2 separate regions of the Homo sapiens genome follow, and region 2 is linked to region 1. Evidence: fine-mapped expression QTL. A gene starts in region 1. The other region holds a variant in brackets. All regions are shown on one strand. Distances are between the middles of the regions.

What was found.
Region 2: its variant is fine-mapped to the expression of CCNL1 in whole blood (INTERVAL, PIP 0.94).

What each region holds. Positions count from the first base shown.
Region 1 is chr3:157,155,079-157,163,270 of GRCh38, forward strand. CCNL1 (cyclin L1) reads right to left here and starts at 5,069. Exons shown (of 11, transcript NM_020307.4): 1 at 4,714-5,069; 2 at 4,327-4,401; 3 at 3,788-3,897. The coding sequence starts at 5,016. It also overlaps the pseudogene KRT18P34. RefSeq lists enhancers at 4,281-4,350, 4,984-5,713, 5,801-5,850, 5,871-5,930 and a silencer at 4,491-4,700.
Region 2 is chr3:157,247,309-157,264,918 of GRCh38, forward strand. All of the region lies in intron 3 of LOC101928236 (a long non-coding RNA gene), which reads left to right. It overlaps VEPH1 (ventricular zone expressed PH domain containing 1), which reads right to left. Exons shown (of 14, transcript NM_001167912.2): 14 at 12,434-14,062. The coding sequence ends at 13,826. It overlaps LOC105374179 (a long non-coding RNA gene), which reads right to left and starts at 3,742. Exons shown (of 3, transcript XR_007096142.1): 1 at 3,301-3,742; 2 at 1,623-1,713. RefSeq lists enhancers at 1-5,790, 8,429-8,960. The variant A/G (reference allele first, on the strand shown) is at 8,707.

The sequences.
Region 1 (8,192 bases):
TATCTAATGGCTCTCCTTAACTGTCATTAAGAGATAAAATAGCTCCAGTGTTACAGCTGCACACACCATTTTAACTCTTAACCCCTTGCAATCCAGACAGAAGACGGTATCATCAAAATCCCTAGTAAAATGTAATTTTATGAAAACATAGTTGTCTCATTTTTCTCCATTTGTTAATAAAAATTATCTATACCTCTTAAGATAACCTGCTTTAAGAACTGCCTTCAAATGGTGATATAATTCATTTGTTCTTGCAATTACACTAAAGAAGCTAAATATGTTTGAATTATAGCTACTATTTAGTCCCAAATCAGACTTAATGATGCCATTTTCTTTGTTTTTGTGTCAAAATGCCAATGACATCAAAATAGATTTAAGAAAACCAAACCCATTATTTACTATAATTCAATATATACTTAACTTCTTGCTTAATCCTGCTATTTATTACCTGCAATTTTCAAAGTTAACTTTGTGGGTATATAACCTAAAACCAGATACCTTTATTTTGTTCAGAATTGGTTCTACCTCACAAATCAACGGTGCACACGTAATTTACAACTACCTGGTAGAGATTACTTTGTATCATAAATTTAAAAAATATATCTCCATCAATCAGCAGTAAACAAAGTCTCAAAGTATACATTAGTACCTTCTGTTGCAACAAGCACATTAAATTAAGGCCTGCTAGAATTTCTTCCTCCCCAATCAGGTAAACTTTCTTTGCCAATAAAGTTTGAGGAGGTGGCATTTGAAAATCTCTTTAAAAAAGAAGTCTTCATCTATTCAGAGAAAACTCAAAAATAATTTTCATTATCAACACACAAACTAACTCAATCTCTGCTTTAAGTTTCTATTGTCCAATTTTTCTGATTTATACGAGAATTATTTTCAGCTTTAGAAAATCCTGGTCTTTGGTCATTAGAAGTTTATTATTATGGTTTGTTAGAGGAGCTATTTTCCTTTAGCATGATTATGTAATTGACATATAACTCAACAACAACAAAAATTACAAAGTCCAAACATGGTTAGTTTCATTTATGTGTTACAAAGACTGAGAAATATTGGAACCAAGTCTTCAAGAGACTATAACAGATTGGTAGTTTACAAAGAGGCATACTGCCAAGCAATATACAAAAATTTGTAATGCCTACTTAAAAGTAGAAACATCCTTTATAGGTATTTAAACAAACTGAAGGCCACCTTGTAGAGCCACAGAATTATACTGTAGAAAGGTGGTAGACTAAATGACATCACTTAACACCCTTCCAATTCTTACCTATCCAACTTTTATTATCTATGGATACACTGAAAATACATTGTATTTACTAATGAGAATGGTTAAACCAGTCTTTGAAAATTTTAATACGCTGCATCTCAAAAGTAAATATTTGGAAACTAGAACAATGAAAAAGCAATCCCCCCTCTAAATTTAGCTGTTTATTGTCAACTTAAAAGATAATTATCGAACCACAAAAAACTGAAGGAGGAATAGGCCAAACAATCCAGGTTGGGGACTAAGCACTGGTACTTTTTAAAAAGCTCCTCTGCTAATTCTCAATGTGTAGCCAGGCTGAAGAGACCAATGACCTACAAGCAACATGAATAATGTATCTCCACTGTAATTGTCAAAGTCACACTACAATTTAAAGTTATGAATAAACTAGATTAAAACAAATAGCATCATTAAGACAAGTGATATGCTTTACCTAACCAATGTATAATACTGATAGTACTTTCTAATGACATTAACCTATGCAAAAATAAATACAAAGCTATAGTTCTAATAACTTGGACAGCAAAGACAAAAGCTTATAACAAGAAACAGGAGTTTTTCTAAATGGTTCACCAGTGGCCAACCTGTTAGTCCCCGATTCCAGTGACCTATTCTCAGAGCACTGGCTTCTCCTTGGGGATTTTCGATACTTCACTCACTGTTGCCATGACGACAGCTTCATCTCTATGTACCACTCCACATCACCCAGGCTTTGGTAAATGTAGCTGGTCGCTGTATAGTCGGTTGCAAGGGAAAAAAGAGTTGAAGTTAATAACATATACAAGTTACGTGCTTGAGTAAACTTGTAATATGCATAGAAACACTTTTACATCCTGCTTTAAAAAAAGGCTTCCATGCAATTAACAACTCCTTTTAAATTTTGCTATAATCAGACTTCTAAGATTGAAACAAAATCAGTTTCTCTGTAATAATGACCCAAAAAACAAAGTTACATCAGACACAACAATCAGGTGAGATTATATTATTTTAAATTCCATGGTTTTTACAGTTAAGACCTATTCTAACATCAACGAAGTAAACTAGTCTCACAGGAAAATTCCACAGAAGATAATCATGTGATTACATAATAGTTGGCTCAATGGTTCAAAGAATACTAGAAAACCATTTCCTTTAAGCAAAGAGAAACCTTTGACTAAAGATAGAGCCTTGTATTAGTGTCATTACTTTAAACATCCTGAAGAATCAGCCAGGTATCTAAATACAGATTTAACCTCAGACCATACCAAAGACCAATTTGAAATCTTCCCAATTCCCAGGGACTCATCAACAAACTAAAAGATATTTTAGAATTTAAAAAGTACTCTATCCCTGGACACAGTTAAGGTGAATGAGAAAAGATGGGGGAGAAAAAGTATGTAGGAAAACTGTTGCAGACTTTTTGACTAGGATACTCTTTTTTTAAAAAAGAACTGTCTGTAGACTCACAGAATAGACTAGTCATCTTAAAGTTGCTTTAATATTTGCTTGTCTGAATAGTTCCATTACTGCCAACTTACAGATTCAGCCAATAAGGACTACTCATATAGAATACTAACAGCACTAACCAACATACCCAACCCCCAGAACAACTTATAATCCTTTTAATAACTTCCTTTCAAACTCAGTACAATTTGTCTAACATCACTACAATTCCTTAAAGAGTGAATGCAAAAACTATTCTACACCAAATATATCATTCTGCAGCATGTACTGGAAGTCACCTGTAGATGCAGGAAGTCCTGCAACAAACTTTTTGGTACTGCCTCACAGGAACACATAGGTCCACATAAAATTATGTTACCACAACACCTAGGAGATACTATTTCAGTCTCTGTATTTTCTTACAACATCAAATAAATGGCCCTATCTAAATGCAACCCAATCAATCTTACTTGTTAATTTTCTAACCCACTCACTGAGACTGTATCTAACCAAAACAAAATACCTGTTTAATCCCTTTGACTTCAAACTTCAAACTTTATCATCCTGCAGTCCTTTCAGATCCGGTATTATTCGATTTATCGTAGTTCAATGTTGAGAAGTACTCTAACAAAAGCCAACCTCAATTGATAAAGAATTAACTGGGACTTCGAGTAGAAAAACATAATCTACACAGAACTTTGCCACAATATTAACTTAAACTACAGTGTTTAAACTTCCAGCCTTCAGTCTTCCAGAGAGGGGAGAGGAAAAATAACTTACAGAATACACTCACACTTGAGCCAAATGTACTCCCTTTCTTGTTTAATCTTAAGCCACAGGCCTGGCTTCACAGCACTGTTAGGATTGTCCATAAATGCAACTGCCTCTACAAACTTTAGATAACCGGTTAATTATGTTTCTTTTTTCAAATTATTTTAAGTATCAGTGTTCCTATATGAACTTTAACACCTAAATTAAAGTCCGTTTTCTTTTGCATCCGTATTCACTTGAAAGGAAAGATGTTTTGATTTGATGACTGGTGCACGGTACAGCAGTAGCAAGAGATACTATGTTCAATAATGCCAATCTTACCTTTTTCCTCTTAACTGGCGGAGGTGGTGGAATACATTAATCACATCTCTTATTCTTCTAGGTGCTTCTTCGATTTTTGATGCAAGATTAATACAAGCCATAGCAACAATCTGAAAGAACCCATGAGCCACAAAAGCCATTGTTAGATTAAACTCACTTTGAAGAATAAAATTTAGAACACAATTGGGACAACCTTTAGTAAAATTAGAGAAGACATCTCTATGCCGTAAGTCTACCAGCTATGCTAGTACTATACTTTTTGTTGTTTAACTCATCTTAATTTTGGTTCCAGAGTCAAACTCAATCTTACAGGAGTTCTGCATTTGGTTGAAAACTGTACTTTTCGTTAAGAGGGCACTTAGGCTCGTGATCGATTTTGAACCACATTCTAAAGGTTTCCACTTCCTGGCGAGTGAGAAGTAGGTACAAAGGCCTAAACTAAACCACTCCCTTTCTGGAAAAGCTGGCTGCTGACACTACCCCTACTCTGCCCATTTCCGGATGAAGAAATCCCTTTTACCCGCCTCCGCTGTGCTTACCTCGAAACTGTGTTTGACGAAAGATTTGGAGTAGAAAAAACGATGAAACAACACCTGCCCCGTTGCCATCGCCACCTGCAGACAAGAGAGGAGAACGGAAGCGCAGGGGTCAGGCGGGCCCGCTCCAGGCGCCGCCGCCATTTTGTGCCGCCGATCGCTTCCCTTTCCCCTCCCGCCGCCGCCGCCGCTGCGAACAGCCCGCTGCCAAGTCCTCCCTCCGCCTCCGCAGCCCCCCGCCCCGGCACGCCCCGGCCGCGGCTGGGCCCCGAACGGGAAAGCCTGAAGGAACCGTCCCCACCCTCCCGGGGCACGGTGATACTGAGATGCGGCGTAGGGGACGGAGGAGAGGAGAGGAGCGCCCGGCCGGCCCGGGGCCGGAGCACTGACCTGCGGCAGCCGGAGGAGAATGCCGGCGGCCTGGATGAGCTCGCAGCCCAGGATGCGTAAGTCCGTCTCACTGGGCAGGTCGAGCCCATCCTGCATGGATGGGGTGGGCGAGAGCCTCTCCTCCGGAATCAGAGAGTGGTCGATGGTAAGTGAAACTTCCGAGTACAGGCGATCGCCGATCAGGATCCCTCCCGTCGTGGTCGTCGTCGTGGTCGTCGTCCCGGAGCTGGAGCCGCCCGCGCTTGGGGCGGCCGATGAGGCGGCTGCGGCAGCAGTAGCTGTCGAATGAGGCCCGGACGCCATAGTCTTAGCGAGCCGCACGCAAGCCCAACGCAGCCGGAACCCGAAACAAGACTAACCAGCGTTCTCGGCGCGACGGATATTCCCGTGACCGCCGGGTTCTGGGCCGCTTCACGCCGCGTGCGCTTCCGCCCTGACGTCACCACGCCGGGCAGCCGCGCGCCAACTAGTCCCTCCAGGCCGCGCCTCCGCCCTCGGCATCTGGGCCTGCGAGGGGAGTGTTGGGTGCTGCGACAGACCTTGGGATCCTCAGAGGCTGAGGAGGCCTTCTCTAGCCAAGGCCGGTCGAAACCACCTTGTTTGTGATAGCCACACGAATAACGGAGCTTTACAAGATCCCTTATACCCAAAATAGAGGTGGCAGCATTGGCTAGCATCTCTGCGCCCCTTCGCCCTGCATTCCGGCCTCTTCCTTTAGCCTCGGCGCGGCTTGCGTTCCGCGTGTACCAAGGGAAGTGGCGGCCGACCTGAGCGCGCTTTGGCGGGTGGAAGTGGTGACTTTGTTGTCCTGTGTGGACGAATGTGTAATATAAAGTGACCCTCAAGGAATCTGGAGAGGGCTGCTTTACAGTATTTGAAGAACACAGGGCTGTGGACCCTATCGGTTCCCAAATGAAAGCTCCCCGGGGAGCGTGTTTTTGCCAGTATGGGGAAGTAGGGCGGAGGCATAGGAATGACCGCGAGAGTGGCTGCTTTCATAGCTCCGCTTGCGAAACTCCTGCCCGGCCTTTGACACCGCCACGGCTTTCAGTAATCTGGAAAATCCCTAGTTTCCAAAAATAGTCTTAGGGCGAGGACTTGACAGAGGTAATTTGATTATGCCTGGGAGTCTCTATTCATACATGGTTACCTACCGCGGGTAGGGTGAGGTCAACCTCGTGTTTTTTGTTTTTTTTCCTGTGATATTAGCTAGCAATTTCCAGCGTTTCCTGAACCTTGAAGTAAAAACAATGATACTGATCTAAACTACTAGAATCTAGGTTGGAAGGAAAGGAATGCATCACGTTTTACTCTTGACGCTCAGAAAGCGATACCCCAAAGACAGAGGCTTTAGAAGCTGCCTCATAATGCAGGTCCCCCAACCTTGACTTGTTGCTCCCACTTTTCCCAAGTGCAGGGAGGTACTCTCTGAAATTTCCTTTCCTGACTAGAGAAGCCTCTTTGTAGAAGAATCAATCGCATTCCTCCCCTCGCTGAAATCTCGTATCCTATTTCAAAAAGACTCAGAAATGCAGCCATTCCTGGAGGGACTTTTTCACAAGATTACTCAAAAGAAAATTATTTACTAATTTCTGTCCATTCATTGTTCCTAATAATCATTTGCTGCTCCTCAAAATAAATGTCTACATTTCTCATCTACCCTTTCCCCTATGAAAAAAAGATATAAAATCTTCTGTACTCCATTAAGCTACTGGGTAATCATCCTCCTGCTTTTACCCCGGTGTTATGTATCCCTTTTCTCCTGTTAATCGCCTGTTATCAGTTGATTTTTTTTTTCTTTTTTTTTAGATAGAGTCTCACTCTGTCGCCCAAGCTGAAGTGCAGTGGCGCGATCTCGGCTCACTGCAGCCTCCGCCTCCGGGGTTCAAGCGATTCTCCCACCTCAGCCTCCCCAGTAGCTGGGATTACAGGCACACACCACCACGTCCAGCTAATTTTTGTATTTTTGTAGAGACGGGGTTTTGCCATGTTGGCTAGGCTGGTCTTGAACTCCTGACCTCAGGTGATCCGCCCGCCTCGGCCTCCCAAAATGCTGGGATTACAGGCATCCAAAGCGCTGGAATTACAGGCATGAGCCACCGCACCCGGCCTTATCAGTTGATTAAGTGAACCTTCAGTGGGCAAAGTTGTTTTAAAATGTACTGATACTTGAGCCTTGCCTGCAGAGGTTGATGTCACTGATTTAAGGTGGGCCCAGCCAGTGGTTCAGTTTTGCCTGTCTTCGAGTGATTGGAATGTACAGCCAAGAGAGTGTAATTATGGTGCTGGCAGAAGTATTAACCTATCTGGATGTCACTGTCTTCACTTTCTGACTAGGCTGCTTCCAGGGAATCTTTCCACCTCAATATTTATGAGATATCTATAATTTTATAACAAACTTTTAAAGGAGCCTCGGTTTCCTTAAACACAATTGATGACACCAGTTTTCTGGTTTTCTTCCATTTTTGTTTATAGAGCCAGGGTCTCACTGTGTTGCCCAGGCTGGCCTTGAACTCCTGAACTCAAGGGATCTTCCCACCTCAGCCACCTGAGTAGCTGGGACTATAAGTGGCACACCACTGTGCCTGGTCAGTTTTCTGGTTTTGATAATCTATGGTTGTGTGAGATATTATCATTGGGGAAAGTTGGAGGAATACATAGGAGTAGTCTATCTTTGCAACTTCCATGTCTTATTTCCAAATAAAAAGTAAAAACCCTCATTGATTATGTACTTCATTAAAACACTGGACTTCAATGAAATCATCACCTATATTTGTAATGACTTGAGAGTAATATAATTTAACTTTTTTTTTGACTTCTGAACTTTTTATTGGCCTCCTGCTCCCCAAAGGGTACCCTGCTTCTGATGGCTTAATGTCTCAGAACTTGGGTGTCGTTGGTCTCAGATACCACTTTGCCATCCACTATCCAGCAGATAGTGGTCTTTTGGATGGTTTGCATGGAGTTGCTGCTGTCCAGGGCATCACCAAGATTGAAGTCCTTGCCATCTTCCAGCAGGCGGCGGTAGGTGGCGATCTCAGCCTCTAGCTTGACCCTGATGTTCAGCAGGGCCTCGTACTCCTGGGCCTGGCACTGTCCCTCTGCCCAGGCCTGTGCCAGCTCTGACTCCAGGTGCAGCAGGATCCCGTTGAGCTGCTCCATCTGCAGGGCGTGGCAGGCCTCCACCTCCCTCAGGCTGTTCTCCAAGCTGGCCTTCAGATTTCTCATGGAGTCCAGGTTGATCTCCAAGGACTGGACTGTATGTCTCAGCTCCGTGAGCGTTATAGCAGCTCCAACCTCGACGGACTGCGTGGTGACCCCTGTGTTGCTCTCCTCAATCTGTTAAGACCAGTACTTGTCCAGCACCTATTGGTTCTTCATGCCAGCTCATCATATTGGGCCCGGATGTCTGCCATTATCTTGGTGAGGTCCTGAGATTTGGGGACATCTACCTCCACAGTCAACCCAGAGCTGGCAGT
Region 2 (17,610 bases), 97 kb after region 1:
TTTTGGGGGACATCACATTTTTCACAGCAGCTTTTGGTTAAACAACAGAGGCAAAACCTTCACTACCTCCCTAACTTCCTGTTTTTCTGAAACTGATATCCTGCATTTGGAAATATATAAATAAATAATAGAGAATCCTGATTCCACTTGGATAAGCCTTGTTTGAAAGTTGAACAGTCTGTCCATTCCTCCACATTAAAATATATTCCTGACTCCATTGTGACTTACTGCACGCTGTCTGTTTGGGCCACATGGTTCTGAGCACCCACCCCAGTCACTTTTATTTTTTTCTATGTACTAGCATTGTACTAGTGGTTTTCCTGAGGAATGTTATTTTGAAACATTGTAACAATCAGTTTGTTTATAACAATCAGTCTGTTAACCCATGTTTTTTTTTTTAGTTCCTTGTTATTAGTTTAGTCTTCTGCAGTGCCCTTTGGCCCATCCCCTGGCCTTTCTACCCCTTCAAATTAGGCAGAAGGCATCCATTGCCTCAGAAAAAGGATGTTGAAAAGAAATCAGAAGTAACAGTAAACTGTAAGTTTCAAAAATCTATTCTGAAACTTACCTGTTAATACTTTGAGAAAAGTAAGATTAAGTCTCAAAGGTCAGGATTAAAATTTTTTGACTTTTATTTTTAGAGACAGGGTTCTGTTCTGTCACCCAGGCTATGGTGCAGTGGTACAGTCATTGCTTACTGCAACCTCAAATTCCTGGGCTAAAGTGATCTTCCCGCCTCAGCCTCCTGAGTAGCTGGAACTATAGGCAAGTGCCATTGTGTCTGGCTAATGGAAGTCAAAATTTCGAGGTTAAAAAATTCATAACTCTGGCTGGGCATGGTGGCTTACATTTGTAATCCCAGCACTTTGGGAGGCCAAGGTGGGAGGGTTGCTTGAGGCCAGAAGTTTGAGGCTGCAGTTAGTTAGAATTGTGCCACTTCACTCCAGCCTGGGCAACAGAGTAAGACCCCGTCTCTCTAAAAATAAAACGAAATAAAATAAAAAAATAAAAAAATTCATAACTCTGAAGAACTAGATTATGAATCTTGTGGCATAAATAATACATTTGGAAGAATACTTGTTGAGAAGAGAAACTAGAAAAAACCTGAATAAATGGAGAATATTCTGAGTTTGACTGAGTTTATCCTGAATCAATGAACACTGCTTTTTTTGCTCTCAAGTGAAATGGGATCCAGCACTCAAGCAATAAATTAATTAAAACATAAGGAAATAAAGAAAATTATATTATTTGTATGTTTGAATTTGTAACTAGGGTTTGCACCCTTACATATCCTTCTGAAACATGCTGTTGCACTTATGGAGAGATATTGAAGCTGTTGTTACTATATTACAGTGTTCTCTTTGTAAGGCCGATAGGAAAAAAATTCTTGGGTCTCATTGTTGAGAGAGCTTTTCTTCCTCTGGGCAACTGGTTTATTTTTAGCCTGGGGAAACTCTGACTCATGAATCTGATTGAATGCCTCCCTTAACTGGCTGCATGAAAGCATGGTGTCAACTCTGAACGCTGTCTTTTGCTGGGATCGAGTTTCATCTACTTACCTTATCCCAGTGACTATTCTTCTTCCCACTTTGTTTTCCTTTTGCCTTTATGTCTTTACTTACTCTCAATCTGTTTGGACTTCCTGGGAAGCAGACTCTGAGGCAGTGTTTAAGGCGCAGGATGCCTATTAAGGAGCACCTTGGGGACCAACACCTGCAGAAGGGAGTGGAGAGGAATCAGTAAGGGGCAGGTGGAGAAACTGAGCTTCAGTGTCGCCCCAGTGATAGTCTCAACTGACCATGTGGAGAGCTCTGCAGGTAGAATGGTCCCTCAGAGTTGTCTCAACTTGGGCCTGAATGTCCAGGTCTTTACACTCTCCCATTAACTGTTCACTAGATGTCAGGTGCCCCAGGCATGACCTTGGCCAGGAGGCAGTCCTTGAGGGGAATGGCAGCTGAAGGCTGTCTGCCAACAGCAGTCCCAGCAGCTGGGGCACCAGGTCCTTCAGTGAGGGATGTTGGTGATGCATCAGTGCCCACCATACTTACTTTAAAAAATCTAGTATATATTTCTACAAGAATTTGGAACAAAAACACCAATAAAATAAGTAATTAAAGTTAAGTGACTCTTGTTCTCATCCTTGCCCATTTATGTTGTCTCATCTTAAGTGTGATCCTGAGTCTTGGCATATGTCATTTCTCTTTTTTGACTGTGAGAGTGTGAAAGGCGAGGTCTAAAATATAAGAAAATTATATTCTTCCTTCAACATCCAGCATATCATCAACTCTTCAGTGGAGGTTTAGTTGACTCCCCAGGCAGAGCCAGCAGCCCCCTCCTCTGTCTCCATCATGCCCCCACATCACAGTGTTGTGATCTCCACACATCTGTTTCTTTCATGGGCAAGATGTCCCTCAAACCTGATCCCTTTTGAATGCTCCTTTTATCATGAATGGAGCTACCGCCAACCCACGGGTGCCGGGATTCTGGAGACAATTCCCGTCAATCACCAAGTCCTGCAATTTGCATTTCTAAAGTCTCTCTCTAACCCTCTATTTCTCTCCATTTCCAGTGCTGCTACTTTCTTTCAAGCTTTCGTTATACCTCTCACCTGGACTATTGTAATAGCCTTCTATTTTTCTCTCAGTTTCTATTATTGCTTTCTCAGCAAACCATTCTCTACACAGCAGGTAGAACCATCTTACGGAATTGCAGATCTAATCATACCATCCCTGTTTTAAACCCAACAGTAGCTCTCCCACAGCCTTCATGACTTGCCCACCTCCCAGCCTCACCACTCTCATCCACCACACTAGCCTGTTTTGGTTCCTCTAATGTGCTACATGCCTTTTCTCTCCAAGGTCTTCTCACATTCAGTTCTTCCTGGTCTGCTTTTCTTCTACCTCTCCCTTTGACTAGTAATTTCCTGTTCATCTTTCAGATCTCAGGCATATGTCTCTTTGTCCAGGAAGCTGTCCCTAACTTCCTAATTAGATCAGACCTCTCCTTTCACAATCTCATATCAGTTGTGCTTCTTTGTAGGATAGGTCGCATGGCAATTTCATAATTAAGATAATACTTTAACATTTTTCTCTTCTACTAGGATACGTATCCCACAAAGTTTGAGACATCTTGGTCACCTCAGCATTTCTAATGCCCAGCACAGGTCCTGCACATAGGAGATGTTTTATGTATGGATTTACTTATTAAATAAAATATACTTATTGTGTTGGTCCATTTGGGCTGCAATAACAAACTGTCTTAGATTGGGTAACTTATAAACAACAGAAATTTATTTCTCACAGTTCTGGAGGCCGAGAAGTCCAACATCAGGGTGCTGGTAGATTTGCTGTCTGGTGAGGGCTTGTTCCTCAGAGCTGGCGCCTTCTAGCTGTGTCTTCACGTTGGGAAGGACAAACAAGCTCCTTTTGGCCTCTTTTATAAGGGCACTAATCCCATTCATGAGGGCAGAACCCTCATTATCTAATCACCTCCTAGAGGCCCCACTTCTTAATACCACCACATTGGTATTGACATATACTACTACCTAATGGTTTTAACATATAAATTTGGGAAGGGGGGTCACAAACATTCAGATCATAACATTTATTTACTGAGTTTGTTAAAGGCATGGACAATTTATTTATCATTTTTGAGTCCCCATGCCCTAGTATATGTTGGATGCTCAGTAAATGGTCTCTCCTTTCCTTCCTTCCTTCCTTCTCTCTCTTTCTTTCTTCTTTCTTTCTTTCTCTTTCTTTCTCTTCTTTCTTTCTTTCTTTCCTTTCTTCTTTCCTTCTTTCTTTTCTTTCTCTTTCTTTCCTTTCCTTTCTTTCTTTCCTTCTCTCTTTCTTTCTCTCTCTTTTTCTCCTTTCTTCCCTTCCCTCCGTCCCTCCCTCCCTCCCTCCCTCCCTTCCTTCCTTCCTTCTTTCCTTCCTTCTTTCTCTTGCTATGTTGCCCAGGCTGGAGTGCAGTGGTTATTCACAGGCACAATCATACTGCACTATATCCTTGAACTACTGGGCTGAAGTGATCTTCCTACCTCAGCCTCCTGAGTAGCTAGGACTACAGGCATGTGCCACCATGCCTGGCTAATAAGTATTTGTTGAATGAATGTTTGAATCAAACTATGTAAAAGGTTGTCTTGGGGAAGAGGGAGCAGACATTATGTCTGGCTGCAGGAGGGAGAACCTGGACTAAAGGTTAGAAATGATGGAACGGCAGAATTTTTCAGAAAATAATTATATGGTATGAATAACCTAATGGGAATTATATTTGAACATTTCTATATTGTTGGGTTCTGAATGATCAGACGATTATGAATAATTTTTATAATTTTAGTAGTTTTTGGTATTTTCTGCAATAAACGTTTTCATAAACAGAAAAAATTTATTTTAAAAAGATGTGAACTGATGATAAATTAATGAGTTCTCTATCCCTAGAAGGGTTTGCGCGGTTGGGAATGCCACCTGCCAATGATGACAAGAAAGGGACTTCTCCATGGGGTGGAGAGGTTTGGCCTGGCAAGTGTTAAGATTCTTCCAACTCCAATAGCCTGTGATACTGTTAACTGAATGATAAATGCCAAATCTCCTTGCTTAGAAGAACTTGGCCTAGTTTATTTGGCTGCCTCACATTCTGCTAGTGGCTTCGTTACATTGGAACCTTACTGTGACACTATTGGCTACAGTGGAATTTGATTTGTATTTACCTGAGGATGGTACAACTGCAGGATTTCTGGAGATGACAGTATTATAGTGATAACAAAAACATGAATATATAGGTAAGAGTTGTTTATGTGGAAAATTACATGATATCCCTCCATGAAGAGTTTGGGGGAGTCGTGATGAAAATGTTCTCAAATCAACACATACCCTTAGTATTATGGTTAATTTTCCAAAACAGGCATTGCCAAACTGTGGTTTTGGCTAAATTTTAAAAATGGACCTTCTGATTTTTGTGTTTATGAGCTAGTTTGGCAAACAGAATCATTGTTTCTCTCTCTTAAGAGAAATGACATTTAGACTATTTCCTCATATAGCAATAGCTCTGAATTAAGAGGGAACAGAACACTCCCAAAGGAAATCTGGTGTATAGAAGTGGATCTCCGTTAAGAATAGTGGAACACACATAAGAGTTTCTTCTGATTACATGAAGTGCCAGCAGAGAGAGAGAGAGAGGAGAGGGGGAGAGGGAGAGAGAGAGAGAGAGAGAGAGAGAGAGAGAGAGAGAGAGAGAGAGAGAGAGGACAGATATAAATAGAATATAAGATAATGAAGTAATAGGATTGATTTCTACAAAGCACATGTGAAAACAATAGTTCTGTTGTCATAATACCTGTGTGATAGTAAATGTGTGTTTATATATATGTGTGTGTGTGTCTTATAGATATTCTACTTAATGTTAGTGAAATGGTAGTTAAAAATAAAACAAGGCAAAGAATAATTCTAGAATAATTCAAAAATGGAAAAATTAGAATTTACTTTTATTAGCACCCACTCCCCCTTAATTTCCAGTGTGGTCTCATGGAGCACTGTTATTCCTAGGCATGCATTAGCCTACCATGTGTTTGAATACTTTACATTTTTACATTATTTGAAAATTTTATAACTCTTCTAGATTCTCAGTACCAAAATGAATTCTAATCCTTTTATTGCTTGAAAGACAGAAAAAATGCATTTTTAAATTTGATGTAAGATTTTCAAAGATTTGTCCATAAAGTCATAAATAAGCTATGTAAACACAATGCATCTGATTATCATTTTATAGAAAGTTCAAAGATTTCCATCCCCCCTGCTCTCAGAAAGTTTTTCTTTGAAGCAGACAAATTCAATAGTACTGGGGTGCAGGGGCAAGGGGCATGAGAAGAATGTTCTTGTGGAATGTCCTCTGCCAAGGCTGGGGTTCTCATGGCGGGACCCGGGAGCTAAGGTTATCATCAGAGCTGGTTGCCTGTTGTGCTTAGCACGTGGCTATAGGGCCTTGCATAACCAGGGACTAGAAGGACATTTATGAGGAGGTGTACCTGTTTCATCAAAGAACATTTAACAGAACCCCCCGCCCCCCCGCCGCCACTTCGCCTAGGCAAGTACCTGTAAAAATCAAGCCATAAGGGTGGTCTTGCTCTTCTGAAGTTCGTGCAACCCTCTGCCCATTCCACTCACTCTGCTCTGTGCCTTTCTCTGCTCTTCCCTGCTTCTCCAACTTCCGACTTGACTCTAGGCCTTGCCTTTCTACTCCTGTCTTTGGTATGGTTGACTTTGAAGGTGTCATCTGAAAATGCTCCTCCTACTTGATCTGGAATTCCTCCTCAGACACCATTCTAAGTTCACCTCTAGGGTCCCCAATCTGTGATAGTGGGTAAAAGACATATCATATTTTTATGGTTTTGGGTTTTATATTTAAATCTTTAATCCATCTTTGGTTAATTGTTGTATATGGGGTAAGGAAGGGGTCCAGTTTCAATTTTCTGCATGTGGCTAGCCAGTTATCCCAGCACAATTTATTGAATAGGGAATCCTTTGTCCATTGCTTGTTTTTGTCAGGTTAGTTGAAGATCAGATAGTTGTAGGCGTGCGGTCTTATTTCTGGGTTCTCTATTTGGCTCTGTTGGTCTATGTGTCTGTTTTTGTACAACTATCATACTGTTTTGGTTACTGTATCCCTGTAGTATAGTTTGAAGTCAGGTAGCATGATGCTGCCAGCTTTGTTCTTTTTGCTTAGGATTGCCTTGGCTATTTAAAATCTTTTTTGGTTACATATGAATTTTAAAATAGTTTTCTTTAGTTGCGAGAATGTCAGCAGCAGTTTAATAGGAATAGCATTGAATCTACAAATTGCTTTGGGCAGTATGGCCATTTTCATGATATTGATTTTTCCTATCCATGAGCATGGAATGTTTTTCCATTTGTTTGTGTCATTTCTGGTTTCTTTGAACAGTGGTTTGTAGCTCTCCTTGTAGAGATCTTTTATCTCCCTAGCTAGCTGTATTCCTAGGTATTTTATTCTTTTTGTGGCAATTGTGAATGGGAGTTTGTTCCTGATTTGGCTCTTGGCTTGACTGTTGAATGCTAGTAATTTTTGCACATTGATTTTGTATCCTGATACTTTGCTGAAGGTGTTTGTCAGCTTAAGAATCTATTGGGATGAGACTATGGGGTTTTCTAGGCACTATCATTTAGGACATAGGCACAGGCAAAGATTTCATGATGAAGATGCTAAAAGCAATTGCAACAAAATCAAAAATTGACAAATGGGATCTAATTATACTAAAGAGCTTCTGCATGGGAAAAGAAACTAACAACAGAGTAAACAGACAACCTACTGAATGGGAGAAAATTTTTGCAAACTACGCACCCAACAAAGGTCTAATATCCAGCATCTATAAGGAACTTAAACAAATTTACAAGCAAAAAACAAACAACCTCATAAAAAAGTGGGTAAAGGACATAAACAGACACTTCTCAAAAGAAGACATACATGTGGCCAACACTCATGAAATAAAGCTCAGTATCATTGATCATTAGAGAAATGCAATTCAAAACCACAATGAGATACCATCTCACGCCAGTCAGAGTGGCTATTATTAAAAAGTCAAAAAACAACAGATGCTGGTGAGGTTGTGGAGAAAAAGGCACACTTTTACACTGTTGATGGGAATGTAAATTAGTTCAACCATTGTGGAAGACAGTGCAATGACTCCTCAAAGACTTAGAGGCAGAAATACCATTTGACCCAGCAATCCCATTACTGGGTATATACCCAGAGGAATATAAATCATTCTATTACAAAGATGCATGCACATGTATGTTCATTGCAGCACTATTCACAATAGCAAAGTCATGGAATCAATCTAAATGCCCATCATTTGGGCAATGATAGACTGGATAAAGAAAATGTGGTTCATGGAATATCATGCAGCCACAAAAAGGAACAAGATCATGTGCTTTGCAGGAACAGAAAACCAAATACTGCATGTTCTCTTTTATAAGTGGGAGCTAAATGATAAGAAGACATGGACACATAGAGGGGAACAACACACACTGGGGCCTTTCGGGGAGTTGAGGGTGGAAGGAAGGAGAGGATCAGGAAAAATAACCAGTGGGTACTAGGCTTAATACCTGGATGATGAAATAATCTATACTACAAATCCCCGATGACACAAGTTTACCTATGTAATGAACCTGTACTTGTACCCCTGAACTTAAAATGAAAGTGAAAAAATAAAAAGACACACCGTGTGCACCCCTGCCTCCATCTCTGCTATCTTGGCCCATTCTTTACCCAGCTTCCCTTTCAGGAAAGGAAACTTGGACAAAGGAGAGCACAGGCAGGGGGATATAGAGACCATAAACATGGCTTGTATGTGGACATCAGCCATCCTTAGTCCTGTCAAAAGAGAGGGTAAGCAACTATAGGCAAAGCTGACCTCACACCTTTGAGGATGGGCGCACTGGGGGCATTTTAATCATTATGTTTTAAAATTTGTTACATTTGCAATATGCTCTACTGTTCACAAAAATGTTAACATACAGTTTTGATTACTGTGAAACAAACCTGTGTGGAACTCTTAATACTTCCTTCTGCTAACTGCTTTACATTTTCTTCCCCCACATTTAAATATCTCTGAAATTAGTACATGTTTTACAATCACTATGCAGTGGGAATGGCTGTGATGGGGTTTCTGTTGTTGCCTATTGATGTGCAAAT[A/G]CTATCTTAGCTCTTTGTGTTGTCACATCCATTCAGATATGTGGATAGTTGACAGCACACGGGCTAATTGCTGTTTACTATGTCTTAAACAGGTTACAATTTGGTTTGACTTTGAAACAAAAAGTTATCATGTACACAGAAAAGCACAGAAGCAGAGGAGTGGAATGAAGTGTGATATTAGTGAACGAAAGAGCCAACATTGAAGTGACCACAGTTCCATATGGTCTTGCAAAGCAACCACTGAATGTTTTGCCTAAAAAGGAAGACATCAACATGTAATTATCATTAAGACATGGTATCATAGTTACTTAATGGTACATAAAAACTGGAGTGTCTTTTTCAAGCACCTATTATGTTAAAGGTTCTCTGCTGGTTAAGGTTATAGGTTTTGTGCTTTTGCACGACATGTGTGTCTCACATCAATTCCACTCTGTGGATAATATTATCCCCAAACCAGGGATGAAGGATGAATAACTGTCTCAGGTTGGTAATCTAGTTTTGATAGAGTGAGGGATTGACTCTTCACGTGCCCAGAGCCTGTGCCCCTTTCCCTACCTTGGTAGACGTCTTCTGGATTTTCCAACCCCTTTGTCTTTCAGGAGCATCTTTGGGAAGGATTTGTTCCAAAGGATCTATACTCTGGTGCTATTCTGAAACAAGATGACAGTTTGTTTTTTTCTTGGTTTCTCTTCTAAAAATTTAGATTTTGGGAACTGGAAATCCTTATTAGGGCATTTAAACCATGGTATTTATTTGTCTGCAATGCACTTTGAATTCAGCTCACATTCTCTCACCTTATCTCACAATTGTTTCCTAAAGTGGGTAATGCTTCCTTAAACATGTAATCCTTATTTATGTCTGAGAATAAGTCATCACCACAAACAGGTCTGTGGGTACCTATGGAAAGTAGGTGAGTTGGAGATGACCCAGTAAATGCCCCTTGACATCACCAGCTAAGGATTTTCTAGAAAGCTCAGTATTAGAAAAGTATTGAACATTTGTTTTTACCAAACTCCAGGTTCTCAAGAAGTAGCTAGATAAGCTTCTCATACATAAACATTTATATTTCCAATGCTATCTGGGAGGGAAAAAGAATAAAAATTAAATTAAAATGAAAGCCACTTCAATTTCGGTCCATGATTATAATTTTATTCATACCAACATTTTTAAAGGTTTAAGCATGTTTAGGAAAGTGGTTTCTTCTTAGATCGGGAAGAAATGGCAGCCCTTTTGGGAAAGGCCGGTCTGTGGTAAACTCACCAGCAACCAGGGTGGAAGTGCCAGAAATATTCGCGGGAAGCTGATGATTCTGAGATTCCTAGTGTGATTCTGAACCCAGGAGAATTTACTTGCATTGGAATTATTGCATCATGGAATGAAACCAAAAAGTTCATTATTTACACTTCACACATTTACTTTTTTTAAGATCTGGCTCAAAGGCACTGAGAATTATGTTGTAGATTAGAGGCATCCAGTTAATTAAATCACAAGGACTTTGTAGCAAGTAGTAAAAATAATTCTTTCCCCACAAATTGAGCTGAGGGGGCCATTCTCTTCTTTCTGAGGCCAAACATTCAGCATAACCACTGTTTTACCACGAGCTCTCTGCTGTGAAAGGTTTAAGCACACTGTTGGCATTCAAATTTTTAATAGCTAATGCAAGGTCACCTAATACTTTGTCAGTGTTTGTCTGTTACCAATTGTTCCTAATTGACTAAAACAGCTAGAGTTATTCACTGACTCTTAAGTATGGGGCGGTAAGTTTTAAAAGAATATTTAGAGAATCATTTACAACTATACTCATTCTCATCCTTTTCGTGCCCAACTTCACAGGAGTTGTCTGTCTGCAAGGTTAGTCCCCTATCTGTTCCCTGAATGTATACATCAAAATTAAATTTACCATCTGCTTATCTCTCAAAATGCTGCTTCTGAATTTTCTATTTCAGTGAATATCATCATTATCATCATCTACCAAGTTTCCCAAGCAAGCACCTAGGGATCAGCAGAAACTCTTTCCTTTCCATTCCCATACTCCAACTCCATCCAATCCGCCAGTGTTCTGTCCATTTAACTAAATCAGTATTTTTCCTGCCTGTTCATTTATCTCTATTTCCTTTGGTACTACATCAGTCCAGGTCCTCACTACCTTAGAAGAACCTCCCAAATGGTCTCCCTGCTACAATTTTTGATATTCTTATAATCCATTCTCTATACCACTATTAAGATTACCTTTCTAAATGCAAATCTGCTTAAAACCTTTTAATGGTGCTTCATCATCTTATTTGTGATTTTTTTTTCTTTTTTATCTTTATTGCTGCCACACAAATTAATGCCTCATCATGTTAAGGAAAAAGTTTAGACCCTTGGCATGGAACCAAGTCCTAAATCCTGTGGTCCTGCAGGCCTTTTCAGCATGACTCTGAACCATTTTCCATACACCCCTTATGTTTCAACCCTAGGGAAAAGCTTACGTTTTGCAAATGGACCATGTTCCTTCTCCCTCTTTTGCATTTGTAGCGTGGTTCACCCTACTGACCATTTGCTCCTTGTTTGTCCACAGCAATCCTACTAGTTCTTTAAGACTAGCTCATTTTCTATCACCTCTGGGAAGCAGTGAGGGAGTCCACTCTGAGTTTAAAGTCACTTACAATGGTGTCTTCTCTTGTGTTTCCACAGGACCCTGTGCATACCTTCATCAAGGCACTTGCTGCGTAGCACTTATATTTCTGTTGTACGTATATGTCTCTTCCACTAAACTTTAAACTTCTTGAAGAGAAAAACTGTGTCTTTTATCTTTGTATCTCCAGGCCAAGCATGGCAACTGTTGCTTAGCACCTGCTCAGTTAATTGCTGCAGAATAAAGGAGTTTTAATCCCTTCCTATCACTTCTGGAAACTTTACTCAAGCAAAGTCATTTTTTTCCTCTTTCTTTCTGTATTTTTAACTCCTTCATCTTTCCCTTAATTCTTACTCATCTTAAAAAGAGCAAGAAAACACTTGCTCCATCTTAGCCCCTTCATCGTAGCCCCATTTTGTTGAAAGAATAGTCCAATTATTGCTTTAAAGTCCAAACCTCCCATTGACACTTCAGCCTACTAAAATTTGATGTTTACTCCCTCACTCAAATGGAATTGTTCTTCCCAATGACACCAATTGCTTCCTGATTGTGGAAGTCAGGCTTTATCTTAAGTGATTACTCTTCAGGATTTCAAATTGTTGCCCTGTTTTTCCTGAAAAATCCTTATTAATTTGGCTTTTGTGACATTGTTTCTCCTGGTCTACATAATCTCTCAACACTAATCAGATACACCAGCTGCCTTTACTTAAATGCTGGTGTCTCAAGGAACCCTTATTAATTCTTTTGTCTTCTTATTCTCTCTGGGTAATTTCATCTAATTTTGCATCTTTGGTGACTACCTATATATCCAGTGATCCTGAATTTTGACCTCCAGAACTCTATTTCCAATGTGTAATAAATTCTGTGACTCACAATACCCTCAAACTTTACTTGTTAAAATGGAATTGTTTCCTTTCGCAAACATGGCCCCTTTTATATTTCCTATCCTAGTAAGTTAGCAGGAGGGTCAAGGTGTTGACCATTCATAATCTTTCTCCAGGTTTCTATACTAGACTACATAATCAATAAATTTCAAGGAAAAAGTTATCCCTTGTATGTAGCCCAACTTAGCTTTTGTATTAGTTAACACTGCATAACAAATCACCACAATTTAGATTTAAAACAGCATACATTTATTATCTGAAAGTTTCTGTGGGTCAGGAGTCCAAACGTGATTTAGCTGGGTCCTCTGCTCAGAGTTTCACAAAGCTGCAAGCAAGGCGTTGGCTGGGGCTGGGCTTTTATCTGAGGTTCAGATGCTTCTTCCAAGATCACATGGTTGTTCACAAAACTTATTTCCTTGCAGCCGTAGAGCTCATGGCAGCTTGCTTATTTAAGGCTAATAGGAGAGAGAGTCTCTGACTGGTTCACTCTCTTTTAAAGGACTAGTCTGATTAGGTCAGGCCCACCCAGGGGATCTCTTTGATTAACTCAAAGTCAGCTGATTAGAAACCTTATGTATATCTGCAACTTCTCTTCACTTTTGTTATATAACATAACATAATATGGGAGAGATGATCCCATCACTTTTGCCATATTCTGTTGGTTAGAAGCAGGTTACATGTCCCACCCACACTCAATGGGGGAGAGGATTATACCAAGGCATGGATTATTGAGAATCACTCTAGAATTCTGTCTATCATAGTGTAATTATATATCTATGTAGTGAAAAAAATAGATGTTTGTAATTTGGAGGTATTAAAAAGTTGAATACAAAGAAAAAATTATAGAACTTTAAAGTCTTAATTTTAACGGAGATGGCACATTATTTTGAAGATAGAGAAAATGGCTTTCTATCCTTTTCCTATATTACACTTAGTGCCTTGGGCAGGATATATGTCCAAGTATCTAAACTGTAGATTATATTATATGAACTTAAATGGAATAATTAAATAAGTAATTCTGAAAGACAAGTATTTAATGACATAACTGGCTTGATTTGGGAACCATTTTACCATGTGTTAGCCTCAGTTGTAGTAAGAGAGGATCATGTAATTATATGTCTATAAGTAAGTTATATGGTTTTTCTCAGTGTACATTAGTTCAACGTTTCTAAAGGTTTTTTTTTTTAAAGTTTTCTTTTAATACCTTTGACAGACTGTGATTTTCATCAGAAGTGCTAATCTTTCCTCAGGATGGAGAGTTCAGGCATCTTTTCATGTTGTTTTCTCACAGTTTTAAATGACATATCTACAGAAGTTCTTTTATCAGTGACTTTTCCCTTCCTGGCCCCACACTATCTGAGGGCATACTCTGTAGCTCCTTTTATTTTATTTTATTTTTGTGGGCATCAGATATATTCTGAAGTCAATACTAAAGCTGTTAGAGTATGACATTTACTAAGAATCCTGCCATTTTAGGCCCTTCTTCTTAAAGGACAACAATTCCATTGGTATTTAGTAAAAAACAACATGGCTTGGTAAATTTAGCTCTTTTTCTTGACATTGGCAATGATAATACAATGCCTGTGGTGTATAATTGTCATGGCTGACTTATAAATCCCTACAGATATGTGGTTACTTCTCTACTTTCCCTTTCTTTGGCTTGGGCAACTGCCACGTTGATGCACTGGAGCCATTCTTCTGCATTCTTCTCATCCTTGGCCTTAAAGACATAGGTTTTATTGTCTGTGAAGATTTCGAAAGCCCGGGGGAGAGAGCGGTCCCTGCGTTTCTTGGCCACAGCCTTCACACTCTGTACTTTGCTGAGTTCTATTGGGCAGTCGTCAGGGTCATCTTTCTGAAAGGCATGGGAAGAAAAGAACATGGGCTGGCTGTTACTGTAGGCAAGGATCTCTGGCTACTGGAGAACTTTCTAAGAGGGCCAGAATCCTTTCACTTTTTATGTCTCAAGACCTTTGTTATTTTGGGTGCTAAGGCCTCAGAATCATTAGAATAACTGAAGGAGTGAGCAATTGGGCCTTTGTTAGAGTATCATAAGTTGACACAAGATAATTAATTTAAAGGATATTATTATAAAGTGGGATTTGGGAAAAATTCAGAGTTCTTTCATTTTCTATTAACGTTATATTAATAGAGCAAGGTGCAACGGTACAATTTGGAGTGCTATTAACTTATAACTTCAGGTAGTTTGGGAGGCATGAAATTGAATTTTCCTTTGTGCTACCTCTGAGAAAGATTTTGCCAAACCTTAATTGAATAGAGAGGCTTCCAGTGTTTGCATAGACCAAACTGTTTTTGAAACTCTCTGCAGCTTTGGAAGCATGCTTTGTCTACAAACAGTAAGAGAAGAAATATTTAATGATGTTACATTTGCCTTTTATTAAAGCAAAAATTTAAGGACCTCTACAATACCAAAGTCATCACACTGGGCTAAGATGAATAATTTTAAGGGGCCAGATATTTCTTTGAAGTAATTTCAGGTCTTTCACATGAATACATTTTGTCTACTAGAGAAAGTACCTGTGGTTGAGAATCTTGCCAATTCTCCTTGCCCACCTCTCCTGTTGCAATCACCCTCCTTTCACTTTGCAATGAAAAAGCATCCTCTTCACTCATCCCATACTTTCTATGATGTTTTGTCCAATGTAAACAAATCTCAGAAGCACCAAACAAAAAAGCAATTCCAACTATTGACATCAGGGAAGTATCCATCAGCCAAGGCAATGTAATCACTCCTCATCTATTTCATTATGAGATACATTTTCAATAATATTTCAATTTTTAATGTTTAATAATTATTAAGCTTGGCATTATACTTATGGATTTTCATGAAGGATATAACTTTTTAAAAAGATAACTAAATCAGAAAAAATAACACTTGGAGACGGATGGTCACAAGGAATTTAAACAATTAAATTTCAATTTATACATATAGTTTTACTCAGTGAAAAATGAAATGCCATTCAGGATAAAATGCTGTGATAGAGGTAGAACAGAAACATGATTTAAAAAAAAAAAGAGAAACAATGTGAACACTTCTATTTAAAAAAGAGTTAATTTATGTATTAAAAATAGTGTTAGGTGTTAAACTGCTATGGTATTTTAATCCAATGGTTACATTTAATGGAGAGATGTAATCCTTTTGTTTTAAAATGTCAATATTTACAATTCAACAGAAATTACAGTCCGGGCAAATGTTTAAACTTATGATAAAAGTGTTGCTGCAACTTAAAATGCTGCAAGGTATTACATAGATTTTTCAAAATTCTTTTAGGGTACACAGGATAAAGTTTGAAGACATACACACTAGACAATACTTTGTTAGCCTAATTTGGTTTACAGTAAGTATCTGACAGTAATAAAATTGCATTTCTTTGAAGTAGTCTATAGTACAGAGATTGATACGAAAATAAAAAGTTACCATAGTAATTTAAAGATGGACAGTGAATCAACTGAGACAGGAATAGATAGAAAGTCAAAGGACACTATTGCCTAGCTAGTTTGTGGAGATCAAGGTCTTAAAAATGCAAAAGTGAAAGATTAGAGTCTTCCACTAGAGTCTTTCAACCTCAGCTCTAATTTTAAAATGCACATTTCTTTCATTTAAAAGGGGCCCTTTTACAAGGACCTGAAGCTTCAGCAGGATTGTTGACCACTGGTAGGTTATTGTTTCCCTGGAGATTAGAGGTATTTTGCTGTGGCCTTCATGCTATATTAAATTATTTCCCACTATTTGAGCCGCAAGTTTTGTCAGAGTTATGGAATGTCAGACCATTATTTCCTGATAAACATGTCAAACAAGTTACCTAATTATAAAATTGCTTTTTCTTTAAACCTTATTAAAAAAGCCATGAATCAGAAAGTATAAAGGTCATTATTTGAGTTCAGAAAAACATTCTCATAGATTAACTCTGCTTTGTCTTAAGGGATCTGGAAAATTACTACGTCTTCATTTCTATTCTTGATTTCTTGAATAAAAACAGAAAATTCAGGTAGTCATTTTAAACACTTTAAACATGCTTTAGTGTGAACCTATGCTAAAAAAATTTCTTTAAGTTTCCAATAGCTGTCTAAATTGAACTGCCCTTTCAAAAAGATGTTCAGCTACAGAAAAGTCCATCTGTATATGTTATAACACACACAGATGAAGAAAGTAGCATGACTACACAGTAGGTATCACAAAAAATATTCTTTTTCATTCAAAAAGTTAACAGAAGTCTTATTAATTAAAAGAGCACTGGTCAGAATACACGATACTTGATTCATACTGATTAAAATGTTCAAATACATTTTATAATGAGTACTCTAAAGATATAGTGCATATGGCCGAGAATGAATTATAATTTTTAACTAATTTACCACTTTTCATTAATTAATTCAGACAGTTTGGTTTATGTGATGGTTAATTTATGTGTCAACTTGACTGGGCTAATGGGTACCCAGACAGCTGGGAAAGCATTATTTCCGCATGTGTCTGTGAGGTGTTTCTGGAAGAGGCTGGCATTTGAATTAGTGGACTGAGTGAAGAAGATCCATGCTCCCCATTGTGGGTGGGCATCATGCAATCTATTGGGGACCTGGATAGAATAACAAGTTGGAGGAAAGATAAATTTGCTTTTTCTTCTTGCACTGAGACATGCATTCTCTCCTGCCTGTGGATATCAGAGCTCCTGGTTTTGGGGCCTTCAGACTCTGGGACTTACATCCCTCCCCCCAGCTCACTGCCATACCCAGGTTCTCAGGCCTTTGGCCTTGGACTGGGAGTTATATCATTGACTCCCTTAATTTTCTGGCCTTAGGACACAGACTGAATTACACCACCAGTTTTCCTGGTTCTCCAGCTTGCACACAGCATATCATGGAACTTCACACCCTCCATAATTTCATGAGCCAATTCCCATAGTAAATCTCGTATATGTCTTTATATATCCTATTGGTTCCATTTCTATGGAGATCCCTGGTGAGTACAGTTTACCACTGACTCTGTATTTTAAGTATACATGGGAAGCAGTAAACTCATTTAAGAACATGCTTTGGTGTAACACTGCCTGATCTTGACCCCAGTTATACCCTTTCTCACCTTATTAGCTTTATCCTTGGACAATCCAATCAGTTTCTTTGACTCAGTTTCCTCATCTGTGAAATGGCAATAATAGCAGTGGTGGCCTAATAGGATTGTTTTGAGGATTGTTTGAGGCAATCCAAGGTGTTGCATAGTAGGCACTGAAAAAATGCTAGTCATTATGATTATTTTCTAAAATAGCCAAGAAGTAGGTCAAGATTTGATTCCTCTTGATCCTGAATCAGGAGAGTTTAATGATACATAAAACCAATTTGAAAAGAAGAGAAGGTAACTTTGCATTATTGATTGCAATGGAATGCTAC